Linked DNA regions of Homo sapiens. The protein of the gene in region 1 purifies or fractionates together with the protein of each later gene. This does not show direct contact. Each region holds a gene or a part of one and is shown on either strand. Other genes may lie near its edges.

The links.
Region 2: the proteins of LRRC32 (region 1) and STAT3 purify together in Homo sapiens (co-immunoprecipitation; 3 studies listed by BioGRID and IntAct, with this or other methods). This does not show direct contact.

Annotation. Positions count from the first base shown.
Region 1 is NC_000011.10:76,667,278-76,675,232, reverse strand, and holds the start of LRRC32 (transforming growth factor beta activator LRRC32 isoform a precursor), read left to right. Parts: upstream 1-4,485; 5' UTR 4,486-4,619; exon of another isoform or gene 4,620-5,471; intron 5,472-7,955.
Region 2 is NC_000017.11:42,322,443-42,329,442, forward strand, and holds part of STAT3 (signal transducer and activator of transcription 3), read right to left. Parts: coding exon 6,968-7,000; intron 3,758-6,967; coding exon 3,674-3,757; intron 2,620-3,673; coding exon 2,521-2,619; intron 2,405-2,520; coding exon 2,269-2,404; intron 1,184-2,268; coding exon 1,131-1,183; intron 913-1,130; coding exon 818-912; intron 702-817; coding exon 562-701; intron 53-561; coding exon 1-52. UniProt on the Homo sapiens protein: Signal transducer and transcription activator that mediates cellular responses to interleukins, KITLG/SCF, LEP and other growth factors. Once activated, recruits coactivators, such as NCOA1 or MED1, to the promoter region of the target gene.

The DNA.
Region 1 (7,955 bases):
GAATAAGACCTTCGGCCCACTGTGTGACCTCGGGCCACGTCCTCACCCTCTCTGGGCCTAGAATCTGTCATATTTCTTGGCATGGGATTAGAGGAGGCTGGGAAGATTCTCTGAAATTTATGGCCACCTCTCCTCCTCTATGCCAGCACCCGGCTCCTGTGAGTGGTGCTTTTAGGAGCTCATGTGTTTGCAGCCACCTCATCCTGGCCTTGGCTCGTTGCTGTTTTTAGTACCTTGGAGATGACACTTTGTGACCTCACAGACCATAACCAAAGCCCAAAGTGATAAACACTGGATCATCAAGAAAAGGGTACATCAGGTTTAACCTTTAAGCAGTTAAAACAGAGGAAAAAGTTGCATGGCTCAAAGGCACAAGACCTCGGGTTCCCAGCAGCCTGGTGCTGCAGAAAGCTGCGGTTTCATGGTCCACAGCTCAGCACAGCATCAGGTTGTGGAGACACTTCTGATCCTGCCCTGCCTGGTCCATCCCCCCAACTCCCTTGGGGCCTCTGGGAGCCTCCAGTCCCTTCAGTCACAGTAGTCACTGACGGGACTCTGAACCAGGAGCCTTTCGTGTGGTGGCTGCGGGGTATATGGGGTCTCACCAGCACCTGCTTCCCCTGCCTTGGTAACGCTAAGTGCTGCCATGAGGGGGTGCCTTGTGCCTCCATCAAGAACAGAAAACCCGCAGAGTAAGTCCTCATTCTCTGGCCACGAATGAGGACTTGGAGCCTGAGGACTTGGATGGGCATGCCCACTGTGTCTGCTGTGTGACCACCAGCAAGTCATAGAGTCCCTGCAGGCTTCATCTCTCTTCTGTAAAAGGGGGGCAGAGATAGGCCTCCCCTCGTCAGATGGCTATGGGCAGGGGATAAGTAAAGAACCTGGCCCCAGGCCTGGTCCTGCAAGCCCTTGATATTCCCACTCAAGAGACCAGCTACTCCCCACCACTGGGCCATTCATAACATCCTCCTGCCCCTCCAGGAGGTGGCCTAGAGCTGGTGTGGCCTGAGTCCATTTGCCCTAGGGAGAAAGGGAGGGGAGTCAGGGGAAGAACTGGGGAACCCAGGGTTCTGCCCTAGAAGGCAGGGCCCAGAAGGGGCTCGTGAGGGAACTCCCAGACTCTCAGGGGCCCATGTGGGTGCTGGGCAGAAGCAGGGAGTGAGGACAGCCACATCTCTGCACTGAGACCTGGCCTGAAAATCAGAAGACCTCGGTTCAATTACTGGCTCCATAGCTGTGCTGTGTGACTTTAGGCAGTTGCTTAACCTCTCTGAGCCTGGTCAGTAATTGAGAATAAAGGTCTCTGAGTTTCCTGGTCAGTCATTGAGAATAAAGACACCTAACTGGAAGGCTGTCTATGGCTGTCTTTACTCTCATTTGCCACATGAGATGAAGGACTGACCCACAGTGAGGGTTCAGCAAACAGCAGTGGAGACTAAATTGTCAGTCTAGGGTGCCATGGTCCTTTCCACTCTGGCTCTACAGTTAGATCAGGACAGCAAGGCTCAGAGAGTTTTAGCAGCTTGTCCAAGGTCACACAGGATGTGCACATCATCACCTTTCTGGGCCACTTGCTCCTGCGTAGGACCCTCAGGTTTCAATCTGGCCTGAGGTGAAATCCTCCCAGGGAGCTTTGAGCCTGACTTGGTGCCCGAGTGGGTTTTTTCATTACAGAATGGTAGTCCCGAGGACACAGGAAGAGATGCATCTCTTATATTTTCACTGACAATGCATGAAGGAATGGAAGCATTTCCACAAAAATATCAACACCATGAAGACTGAGCTGTCTGCTGATGGGCTGCCCAGGAGAACTCCCCATTTCTGGAGGTGTGCCAGCAGAAGCTAAGTGACACTGGATGGGAAGTTGGACTTGGTGGCCTTTAAAAGACCCTCCACATGGCTGCAAGGCAAGCCTGAGTCTGCTCAGTTTCCACCCACTCCTCCTCCTGCAGACTCAAGCTCTGCCTCCTAGACTTGGCCTTCAAGGCCTCTGGACTCAATCATCCTCTGTGCTCTCATCTGTCTCTCATCTGGCCTGGGAGCTCCAAAAAAGTAGGCATTGGGCATTTTTATTCAGCAACTGTCCTGGGCCCACCAGAGGAGAGAGGTCATGTTTACTGAGCAAAGGCCCCCGCGACCAGGAACTTCACACGTGTCATTACAGGCCATCCTCATACACCCGGTACTGTAATTAGTTTCACTTTGCAGGTCAGCAAACCAAGGTCAGGAAGGCTGAGCAACCTGCCAAAAGTCACACAACAACATGACTGCCAAAGAAGTGAAGAGATGAAGGAAGGGGCGCTGAGCCTGTGGGCTTCCCGGCTTTTAGCCCCTGGTCCCCAGAGGCATCTGCAGCAGGTGGGCACGCTTGGTTGCCCATCTGCCTCAAATGTGGGGGAGCCCCATCCGGGCACTGAGTAAGGTGGAACCCCACGAGCTGACTAACCACAACCACAGCCTCTGGGGGCGGGGGAGTGGGAGGTGGGGCACTCACCCCCAGCCCACCATAGCCCCAGCCCCGCCCTCCTGGGCCCTAGCAGAAGCTCTGCCATGGCCCAGTGATTTCTGCTTGGTAGCAGCTCCGGGAAGGGTGAGGCAGTGCTCAGCGAGCCTGGGTCTGGATGGCTGGGAGCTGGTCTGATACACAAGGCCAGGAACTGCCCGAATGATCCAGTCACTCTGCTCATACTGCAGGGCAGCTTCAAAGCACTTTCCTGAACATTTGGCCCCTTGGACAGGGACCTGGAAAAGGAAGCCCACAGGATATAGGAGTATCCACCAACTGCCACAATAAAGGCAGTGAGAAGTTGCCTAACAACCACTGGGTGCAGGCTCCAGCTGGATCCATTGCACTTAGTTCTAGCACCAACTCCAAGTAGTAGCTACTATCTTTCCCACTTTACAGATAGGGGCACTGAGGTTCCATTTGACCAAATGGAGCACTAGAGACCAGAGAGGGGGCTGGATGGACCAGCTAGGACCCTGTGGACATAGATCTGAGGCCTTGGGTGGCTGGGAGGGAAGGGAAAGAGGTTTGGATACCCTTCGCAGGCCCTGCTGAGAGATTCCTTACCTGCACCTCCTGCCCATCCCCTCACTGCAGCTCAGGCCTCCTCCTTAGGGAAGCCTTCCCTGATTTCCTCTTCTAAGACTAGGTCAGGCCCCTATGGCACCTGCTATCATGGCTTGTCCTCTCTGGGTTGACCCCATCTCCCCAGATCCATCTCCACAGTGGACTGAACAGGGGTAAGAAAAGGCAGTAACTGTAGAGACTTCAGGGAATCCCGCTTCTGAGCCCAGCCTTACCCTGATTTGCCACAAGGCCCTGGGTGGTCACTTTCATGCATGTAAAATGGGGCACCCTGCCCCACTCTCAGGGCTGGTGACGATCAGGGAAGAGAAACACTGTGGAAGAGGCCCCTTCTACACTTGGAACCAGGACCTGGAGGACAGCCAGGGCCCCTCTCTTCTAGGGACCCGCATACTAGAGTCCACAGGCAGCAAGGCAGGGTACCTGTGATTTGGTAGGGTCAAGGCATCTAGAAGAGAGGTGGCTTTGGGAAAGATCTGCTTCAACCTCCAATCTAAATGACAATACCGCCACCCCATATTTGCACAGTACTTTAAAAATTCGGGCAAGATAATGCCCAAACTGAATCAGACTTAGCTTTATGAACAGATTGGGCTCAAATCACTGATTCTTATTAGCTGTGTTGACTTTGGACACGCCATTTAACCTTTTCTGAGCCTCAGGTTCCCCAGCTATAAATAGGGACCTTACTAGTCTCAGACAATTGGTTTTCATGTGTACACACTGCCCCCACCCCTAGCCTCAGCTTCTCCATCCGAAAACAGGACTTTGATGGTGCCGTTTCACAGGCTGTTGAAGGGTCCCGCAGATGATGGAGGAGTACGGGTCCAGACACTAGAGCACAATCCGGAGAGGAAAAGTGACCTGCCAGGACCCACCAGAGTGGACGGCTTGGTGCGGGGAACCCCCTCCGCGGCCGCCCCAGGGCCAGCGAAGGGTCATTTCCTTCCGCATTCAGCCCCGCCGTCACCTCGCCTGTTTGCCCCCGCGTTAAGTGCGGCGGCGCCAGCAGCTGGGAAATCGGGGCCAGGCCGGATTTCCTCTGTGGACCTGCGGCTCCTAGAGCCACCGCGCCCCCCTCCGGACCCCGCGGGGCCGCGAACTGCACGTGCGGCGGCCGCTGGGATGGGCCTCGCTCCCACGGCGCTTCCTCTGCAACCCCTCTCCCTCCCGCCCTCTCATCCCCCCACACTGGGCCCCCGCCCCTTCCCGGCCGAGGTCCCAGGGTGGTGAAGATGCTTCGCCGCCCCACCCCACTCCGCCCCCGCCGGCTCCGGATAAACCGAGGCACGGGGCCAGGCGCTAGGACCCCACGGCCTCGCCAGAGGGGGGCGTGGCGGGGCGGGCCGGCGGGAGAGGTATTTAAATTGCAGCCGGAGCGCGGGGGCTCCGGTGGGGCAGCTGAGCGGCCTGCTCCTCCTCGGGCCGTGACCCCGGGGTCTGGCGCGGGGTGGGACCCGGGGGCGGGTTTGCGCAAAATGTGCCGAGACTGCCCGGGAGAGGAGCTGCGGCCGCGCTGAGCCAGGTAGGAGCCGCCGGGCAGGCGAGGCTGGCCGGCCCTCGGGGGGCGCACTGTCGCGCGCCTCTAGCGAGCGCAAGGCGGGGGCTGGTCCCAAGGGACGCCCCCCAAACACTCCCCTCCCGCCATCCCCACTGCGCGCGTGGAGCCGGGGCTGACCCTCCCTCGGTCCCTGGGAGTTCCCCAGCGCTCCTGTCTTGGCGGATCTTTCCCGCAAAGGGGTGAGGCCGGCCTTCCCATTTGACAGCTGGGAAAACAATGGCCTGAAGACCGTGACTTGCCCAGGAACACACAGCTAGGCAAGGGCAAACCGGAATTTGAATTCAGGTTTCCTGCAACGCTCCGATCCCAGCCAGGCGTGGGGCTGCCCATCCCACAGCACTAGATGGCCTGCCCATTTCTCGTAGTGGGGTAGGGGGCACCCACCGCTCTCCAAGGGGCTCTGAACCCAGCCTTCTTCATGGGTGGTAAGATGTGAGGGGCCCCCACCCCCACGCCGAGCTGCCTGAAATTCCGCCATCACAGCCACATTCCTTTGGGTTAAGGTCTAATTCCCCCGTGGGATGCACATGTCTCCAGAACGAGGCTTGCCCTTAGTGATTCACTGCTTGACAGGAACGTCCGCAGCAGCTCTCCCAGGACCCCACTCTGCCAGTAAGTCAGCTGAGGCCGAGAGGAGGGAGAGAGGACCTCAGAGGCCAGACTGTGAGCTAGTCTGCCCTGCTCCTGCGTGTGAGGGGTCGTTGGCAGGGCTTAGGGAAGGAGACCTTGATTTGGTATAGTGGGAACATTTGCTTTGGAGACAGATGAACTGGATTCTGATCGTGACCCTGCTATTTTCTCCTTGTGTGACTTTGGGTAAGTCACTTCTCTGAGCCTCCTTTTCTTCATGGGCAAAAAAAAGACAGTTCTATTGGGGGCAGTCGGCTCAGCATGTGCTGGAGAAAACACAGTATTCAGGTCATGTAGAACTGGATAAATCCCAGCTCCAAAGCCCTTATGAGCTGGGTAACTCTGGGGGTAAGTCACTTCACTTTCCGGAAACTGTTTTCTCATCCGTAAAATGGGAATTACAGTAATTTCCTCAATAGGTGATTGTGAGAATTAAATGAGATGATATAGGTCAAGTGCTTAGAAGACTAACATCCTTAAATGTAGGGGTGGGCTTATTGTGGTAGTAGTCATTGCCCCCCGTACCCCTGCTCTTTCTCTCTCACTCTCTCTCTCTCTCTCACACACACACACACACACACACACACACACACACACACACATTCTTTGGCACTTTTCTGAGTTGGACTCCTGAGAGTCCGACTCTCCTGCCTCCTCTTGCCCAGGCCACTTGTCTGCAGGCTTGGGGCCTCCCCACTGAGCACACCTCACCTGGGATGCTCAGCCCTGCGAGGGTCACTGTGTCAGCTGGGAAGGACAGTGAGGATGCAGGGCACCTTCGCCACCATTCTTTGCCTGATCATCACAATAGTTGGGGTTGGCCAGTGGCAGAACTGGAACCCAGCTGCCTACCCTGCAGACAGGACACTGGGGCACCAAGAAAGGAAGGGACTTACCTTAGGGAGCAGAGCTGGTGAGTGGTGGGCTTTGGATGCAAGCCTGGGTCTAAGTGACACCGTCCTCCTTTTTGAGAGAGAGTAGTCTTTAAATGCTACACCCTGTACTTGGGCACCACTGAGGAGGGCCCACAGCTGAGGGGCCCTTCCCGTCAGATGCCAGGACAGAGTGCCCATGTGCTGCAGGGACGATCCCTTCTGGATGTGCACAGGGCCACCTTGGGGATAGAGTGGGGTTTGGCAGAGGAAGGGGAAATAAGGGCCTAGGACCCTTCCTTGTCCTCACCTGGCACTCACCACTCAGTCCACTGCAGCTGAGCTTCTGCCCTGATTTTGCCACTTGTTCACTAGTCTTTAGTGAGTACCTACTTAGTAGGCCCCTGTTCCCACATGATAAGAAATAAATGATGAGGAAATGATAAATGTGGGAAAACAATGACATGTGTGAGGAGCTGAGGAAGAGCATTCAGGGAGAGGAAACTGCAGGAGCAAAGGCCCTGTGGCAGGAATGAATTTGCTGTGTTGAAGGAACAGCAGGAAAGCTGGAATGTGGTGAGGGAAGGGAAAATGGGCAAGAGTCAGAGAGGAGACTGTGGATAGCCTGGATTTTCTTGGAGATTTTCAAACAGAAGAGGTTTAGGATCTGACAGATGATTTTATATTATCACTCTGGCTGCTAGGTACAGGACAGATTATAAGAGGTCAGGGTGCTGTGGTCAAGGCCAGGATTGGGGTGGCGTCTCGGTCTGTGGCAGTGATAAGAGGGAAGTAGGAAGATCCGGGGTCTCTTTCAGGGAGAGCAGTCAGAGCCCACTGACGGCATGGATGGGTGAAGGGAACGTTGCAGAGAGGTGAAGGGAGAGCCAAGGAGAACTGCTCTCAGTAACGACCCCATGTCACCGAGACTCCTAGTGTCGGTTTTCTGTCCGCTGCTGACCTGTTGTGTGCTGTGAGATGCATCTTAAAGGATGGTGAGCCCCTCTCTAGGGGCACTTCCCATGGGAGGGGGTGGGGCCCAGTAGCCACGGAGGGCTTGGTGCTGTGCTCACTGGAAGCTCAGGGGCTCTGGGAGGACTGGAGGACATAGTCCAGACTTGGGGAACCAAAGAAGGCCTCTTGGCCCATCTAAGCTGGGACCCCAAGGATGAGGAGGTCTTTAGCAGAAGAGGAGAGGGGAGAAAGTGAAGGTTTGGGGCAGTGAAAATCTGCTCAGGGAACTGAAGGAAATATGAGGTGTCCAGAACCCAGAATGTGAGAGGGGACACCGGGGAAGCAGGCTGGAGAGCAGAGCTGGCCAGGCAGGGCATGCTCCCCAGTGGCCTGGAAGGCCCTGCCGGAGGGGTTTTCACTCAGTTCTGAATATGCTAACTTTCTAACGGGCGGTGGCGTTCTGCTTTTTAAACAGCAGAACAAAGTTTCCTGTGAAAGCACAACCTGTAATGCAGGTGAGAGCAGAGCAGCTGCAGGGGCAGCGCCTGTGGCCCTGAGGGGAGCCAGGGAATAGGGTTTACCGGGTCCGGCTGTGGTCTGTGCGCCTTCAAGAGAGATGGGATTCAGAGCAGCCATCTTCGTCCATAGCTCATCACTAGCGGGTTCCAACAGTCAAAGACACTGCCCTCAAATGCCCTGTGAATGCCTTTTCTCCTGCAGCATCCTTCAGAATCGCGGTTCAGCACTCACTGAGGGAGCACCCACTGTGGGAGGCCTGGGAGTGTGGATTTGAAGGGCACAGACCCAGGAGCCAGACTCACCTGGGCCGGTGGCTTGTTCACCG
Region 2 (7,000 bases), on another chromosome or scaffold:
TTGTTCAGCTGCTGCTTTGTGTATGGTTCCACGGACTGGATCTGGGTCTTACCTGTCACAGGACATGGGAAGGAAAGATCATGGAACCTACAGCTAGGTCATCTCAGAGAAAACTGCCCATTTTTTCTTTCCTCGAAGGGGAAAAGACTTAAGCCACCCTAGTGTTGAGACCCTGAACACCCTGTTCAGTGGCCTGGCACTGTGGAAATATTCAGGCTGGCTTCTAATTAAGAAGAGGCTACTAGTTGGGTCATAGAAAATAAACTTGAATATAACTACTTGCGTAAGATATATTAACAGGGTTAAGTAGAAAAAGAGATGAAGAATACAATTTAAATTGCAAAATTCTCAACAAATAGTCACTGGAGCAAGCAAAACAAAGCAAACCAATCCTTCAGCTGGAAGGATTTAGAAGTCACGCAAATGTGTTTTGCGAGTCTGAGTGAAACAGGGAGTCAAGGCCATCTCCACCCACCAGGGGGCAGTAGGTGCTTGCAACTAGAAGCAGTGATGAGGCCTCAGCAGCCACCAGCAGGTGGGGTGGGTGGGAGCCTCCCTTACCGCTGATGTCCTTCTCCACCCAAGTGAAAGTGACGCCTCCTTCTTTGCTGCTTTCACTGAATCTTAGCAGGAAGGTGCCTGGAGGCTTAGTGCTCAAGATGGCCCGCTCCCGCTCCTTACTGATAAAGCCCATGATGTACCTGGAGCCAAGGAGGAGGAACAATGTTGTTATTGCTAACAGGGCATCCATCCCCTGCCACTGGCTTGCTGAGAGCAGGGGACTTGGTTACATCTGTGCACACTCTGTCCAACCTACCCTTCGTTCCAAAGGGCCAGGATGTACTTTTTCACAAGGTCAATGATATTGTCCAGCCAGACCCAGAAGGAGAAGCCCTTGCCAGCCATGTTTTCCTGGAGAAAAGAGTAATGGGAAAGCCAAGTCTACTGCCATCCCAGCCCTTCCCTTCCTAGGGGTGCAGTGCATCACCCAAATCCTCAGGCCCGTCTACCTTCAGGCAGGTCCTACTGGCCGCTGGACCAAGAGTTCAGGGCCTTCAAGCCAGAGCCCTCAACGACAGCCGTGCAGGTGAGCATTCCCATTCCCACGAGAATTTAACAAGATTGCTTACTTTGCAAAATTTAGCCCATGTGATCTGACACCCTGAATAATTCACACCAGGTCCTGAAGGAAAGAAAAAGAGTCAAGTAGTACATTTTCAGCTTGGGGTCAAGAGGTTATTTCTTAAAACAGAACACACACACATTCATCCCACAATGGGCCACAAAATAATCAGCTTTCACATCTTTGAAGGTAGGCACTGTTGTGTGTGTGCACATGAGGACAAACACTATCCCATCATTTGACTCACTTGTGTTGCTGGGTAGCCCAGCAGGGATGGAGGGTGATATAACAAGTCCCCCTGCTCTTCCCAACCTCGGGTGGTAGGCTGGGAACCAACAGCAGCACTCACTAACAAGCTGACATCGGGTGTCAGACAGGTGTATTTGGTGGCAACAGCTTTATTAGAACAAAGCTACTTCTAGCCCAGGTGGCACATAAAATATTCCACTAATTCTTTTTTAAAAACTAGCCTACGCTGGGCACAGTGGCTCAAGCCTGTAATCCCAGCACTTTAGGAGGCCGAGGTGGGCGGATCACGAGGTGAAGAGACGGAGACTATCCTGGCCAACATGGTAAAACCCCGTCTCTACTAAAAATACAAAAATTAGCTGGGCGTGGTGGTGAGCACCTGTAGTCTCAGCTACTCGGGAGGCCGAGGCAGAAGAATCGCTTGAACCCAGAAGGCGGAGGTTGCAGTGAGCCGAGATCACACTACTGCACTCCAGCCTGGGCAACAGAGCAAGACTCGTCTCAAAAAAATAAATAAATAAATAAAATAAGACAAAAAAAACCAACTAGCCTATAGTTTATTAAAAAAATGGACAGGGAATGTCAAGCCTTTAGTGCCACCTTCCAACACACACTTAAAAGATCTTCTAAAGTTAGATAGAGTGGGTGAATGAGACAGCAACCAGGAGAAAAGAAATCTACCTCCCACCTCAAAAATGATCACCTCGACTGAAAACTGCAAACTGTCTCTGCACCCCAACTCCCCAACTCCCCTGTTTCCTGGCACCAGCACAGCGCCTTGCTCAGGAAAGAAACATGGCCTAATGCTCAGTAGACATGGCCCAAATGAACAGCCCTATGGGCCGGATCCCTTTTCTGGGCGGGTGGGCGGGAGGGAGAAGGGGTGAAATGCGGACCCAAGAGTTTCTCTGCCAGTGTAGTCAGCTGCTCGATGCTCAGTCCTCGCTTGGTGGTGGAGGAGAACTGCCAGCTCAGGACCTCGGCCACTTGATCCCAGGTTCCAATTGGGGGCTTGGTAAAAAAGTTTACATTCTATTGGAAAGAACACATTTGCTTGTTTAGATGAGGGATGGTGCTCATTGTCTATACTAGGTACCCCTAAGTCGCAAGAGATCCCGGGGCACCAACTAAAAGGAGGGGGCACTAACCTTGGGATTGTTGGTCAGCATGTTGTACCACAGGATGGACGCCCAGGCATTTGGCATCTGACAGATGTTGGAGATCACCACAACTGGCAAGGAGTGGGTCTGCGGAGGGAGTGGGGACTGAGCTGGGGAGGCAGAGGGGCTCTCACAGCCTTGGAAATCTCTTCACCCGCATCTCACGGGGCTCAGAATGAAAGGACATGCCATAAACCACACCTGCTGCCAACTCTAGGCGAGGAGTGTGAGTGAGTCAGCTCAGTGAGCACTCATAGTGGAAAGAATGCCCAGCGTGGCCACACAACTCAGGCTGCAGTCGGAATATACCGGTCCCTTGTAAAACCTGACTTGCTCAAAGCTTGACTCACAATCCACAGATTCCCCATTTTTAAGACCTTGGAGGCATTCTCCAAGACTTGAAGCTGTATCTTCACATGAAACAGGGAGGTCTCAGGAATCAAAGACCAGGATTCCTGCTTTTCTAGGTATATCTTAATTTAAAAATCAAGAAAGTTGGGAAAGGAGAATGTCATTGCCACAATTTTCTGTATACTAAACACACTGGCTGCTAAGACTCTTATGCCCAAACTTTATAAAGTCAGTTCTAATTTCTTTTTTTTTTTTTTGAGACGGAGTCTCACTCTGTCACCCAGGCTGGAGTGCAATGGCACAATCTCAGCTCACTGCAACCTCTGCCTCCCAGGTTCAAGTGATTCTCCTGCCTCAGCCTCCCGAGTAGCTGGGATTATAGGCGTCCGCCACCATACCCAGCTAATTTTTGTATTTTAGTAGAGACGGGGTTTCGTCATGTTGGCCAGGCTGGTCTCGAACTCCTGACCTCGTGATCCACCCGCCTCAGCCTCCCAAAGTGCTGGGATTACAGGCGTGAGCCACCGCGCCCGGCCAATCAATTTCTAAATAGAGATTTTCATATCAAGTTTGCTGAAAGCTGAATATACACACATCTTCTAAGCATTCAAGCAAGACTTTATTGCCAGATGGGATGCCAAGGATTTTTTTGGAGAAAAGTAAGCAAAAATAAACACAGTGTTAAGCAAACAGTAATCATTCCACCTTCTCTTGTAAAAATCCCAGTGGAAGTTTTTGTCCTGAGTCACCCCTGTACGTAGCCTCTCACCGATTCTGCTGCAGAACTTACCTCTAGGTCAATCTTGAGGCCTTGGTGATACACCTCGGTCTCAAAGGTGATCAGGTGCAGCTCCTCAGTCACAATCAGGGAAGCCTACAGTAACGAGAAGGACACTCTTAGGCCAGGTGTGGTGGCTCATGCCTGTAATCCCAGCACTTTGGGAGGCCAAGGCAGGAGGATTGCCTGAGCCCAGGAGTTCGAGACCAGTCTAAGCAGCACAGCAAAACTCCATCTCTGCAAAAAATACAAAAATTAGCTGGGTGTGGTGGTGCACACCTATAGCCCCAGCTACTCGAGAGGCTGAGGTGGGAGGATGGCTTGAGCCTAGGAGATGGAGGCTGCAGCGAGCTATGATTGTGCCACTGCACTCTAGCTGGGGTGACAGAGTGAGACCCTGTCTTAAAAAAAAATTAAATTAAATAAAAAAAAAGGCTGAGCGTGATGGCTCACACCTACAATCCCAGCATTTTGGGAGGCCGAGGCAGGTGGATCACATGGTCAGGAGTTCGAGACCAGCCTGGCCAATAATTTGGTGAAACCCCGTTTCTACTAAGAATACAAAAATTAGCTGGGTGTGGTAGTGGGCGCCTGTAGTCCCAGCTACTCAGGAGGCTGAGGCAGGAGAATCGCTTGAACCCAGGAGGCAGAGGATGCAGTGAGCCGAGATCACGCCACTGCACTCCAGCCTGGGTGACAGAGTGAGACTCTGTCTCAATCAATCAGTCAATCAATAAAAAAGAGAAGGACACTTTTCCTCAGAGAGAATGGCATTCAGTACTAACAGCCACAGCCAAGGAAAGTGACATGCCAAGCCTCACCACACCAAGAAGGGTAAGCCACCAGGTGGTCACAAACAAACTGCCAGGGACACAACTTGCTCGGCACTTACTCTCTTCAACACCAAGAACTTCCAATGCTGTGATCCTCAACCTAATCCTTTACTCAGTTTGTATTATAATATTACATAGATCCAATTGGTTATTTGTAAAATACGTAAGGCACAAAGAATAACAAAACAATATGAACCCACCATTCAATTTAAGGAAAAGTCCATCACTCCTAAAATTCTCTGGGTGCCCTTCCCCAACCCCATCCCCTTCCCTCCTCCCTCAGAAATAACTGCTATTTTGTCTTTTGGGTTTATCATTTCCTAGCCCTTTTTGTCTTGTTTTGTTTTGTTTTTTTACAGTTTTACCATATTTGTTTATCTAAGCAATGCAGGTATTGTTTAGTTTGGGACATTTGTGAACCTTACACTTATGGACTCCAATGAATTCTTTTGGGATTCACTTTTCACTTGATGTGAAATGAATCCACATGGTTATGTGTATCTGCAGTGTATTCCTTTTCACAGCTGCGGAGTATTCCATTGTGTCTATACCACAAATAATGTATTCATTCTAATGTTGATGGGTATTTATTTGGGTTGCATTTAGAGCTTATAATCAGGCTGATGTCCACTTTATATATGTCTCCTGGGACATATATGCAAAGATTTCTCTGCTATTAAATCCTGGGAATGGCACCGTTGGTTTACAGGTATGTTCATTTTTATACTGCCAAATTGTTTTCCAAACTGACTACAACAATGTCTCACATCAGTACAGCAACCTTATTTTAAGTAAGAGTTGTCAATGAATTCTCAAAAATTGAATTCTAGTCTGGGCACAGCGGCTCATGCCTGTAATCCCAGCACTTTCGGAGGCCGAGATGGGTGGATCACGAGGTCAGGAGTTCAAGACCAGCCTGACCAATATGGTGAAACCCTGTCTCTACTAAAAATGCAAAAATTAGCCAGGCGTGGTGGCATGCACCTATCGTCCCAGCTACTTGGGAGGCTGAGACAGGAGAATCGCTTGAACCTAGGAGGCAGAGGTTGCAGTGAGCTGAGATCGCACCACTGCAATCCGATAGAACGAGACTCCGACTCAAAAAAAAAAAAGAAAAAAGAAATTAAATTATAATTCATTTTTAATACTATTTTTCTGATTATAAAAGTAATATATTCAGTTTAAAATGCAAATATCACAGAGACAGTCTAGAATAGCCATGGATACCAACAGCAGCACTAATACACATAGCACTGCTGGTATATTCCTCCAGAATTTCTTAATATACATATGAATACACATAAGAGTATAGTGTATTTTTAAAACACATATACTAATAATACTATTCAAATTATTTTACATTTTGCTTTTTCTTAATATGTCATGTACATTTTCCCATATCATTGCATACAGGCTACTTCACTCTACTGTCAAGTAAAATTCCACATTTTTAAAAAGGACTGCTACATTTTATTTTATTTATTTTTTTGAGACAGAGTTTCACTCTGTTGCCCAGGCTAGAGTGCAGTGGCAAAATCTTGGCTCACTGCAAGCTCCACCTCTCAGGTTCAAGCGATTCTCATGCCTCAGCCTCCCCAGTAACTGGGACTACAGGCGTGCACCACCACACCCAGCTAATTTTTGTATCTTTAGTAGAGACGGGCTTTCACCATGTTGGCCAGGCTGGTCTTGAACTCCTGACCTCAAGTGACCAGCCTGCCTTGGCATCCCAAAGTACGGGGTGTGAGCCAGCACGCCCAGCTAGGACTGCTACATTTTAAAGAGGAAGAATTGTTCAGGGGACAAATGTAAGAAAAAGAACGGGGCATCACAATTTTTAAAAATGACTGAAAACTAGCCTTCCGTCACATTTACCTTTTTTTGTTTGTTTGTTTAAAGTTTATTCTTGACAATAAGAATCCAATAATCTGAATCAATGAAAAGCAGAAAATAAGGGGGATAAAGAACAAGATGGGTTTTTGTTTGTTCATTTTATTTTATGTACTCTTTTCCTAAGCAAGCTAATGCAAGGTGGTCATTTATTTTAAAGTTTAACTCAAATCTGTTGCTTTTACACCCTCTATCCCACCTCAGTGGGAGAGAAAAACAGGGCACTAAAAATGGAGCCAAGCAGGGTCAGCCGCAGGAGCTGGATGGGGAATTTGGAAAGCCCCAGGCAAGGTGGAAAGCTGCTTTATACCACATGGGTGTGGAGAACAACTCAGCAAGGGACTTTCCACTTCTCCTTAAGGAGGAGCCAACTCCCAGATATTCACGGAAATGTTCCAAGCCAGAGAGCTCCATGGCACATGGAACTTCTGTTCATGTCACTTTGGCCTGAAGTGACTTTTTGGAATAACTACAGCTGAAAGAACAGGTTGATGTTTCTAATTCTGGGGATTAAGAAGGATCTTTACCCCTCTCTCCCTCAAGGAAAACACCCCAGTTGTCTTTCATCCCCAACAAAACTTACATCACAATTGGCTCGGCCCCCATTCCCACATCT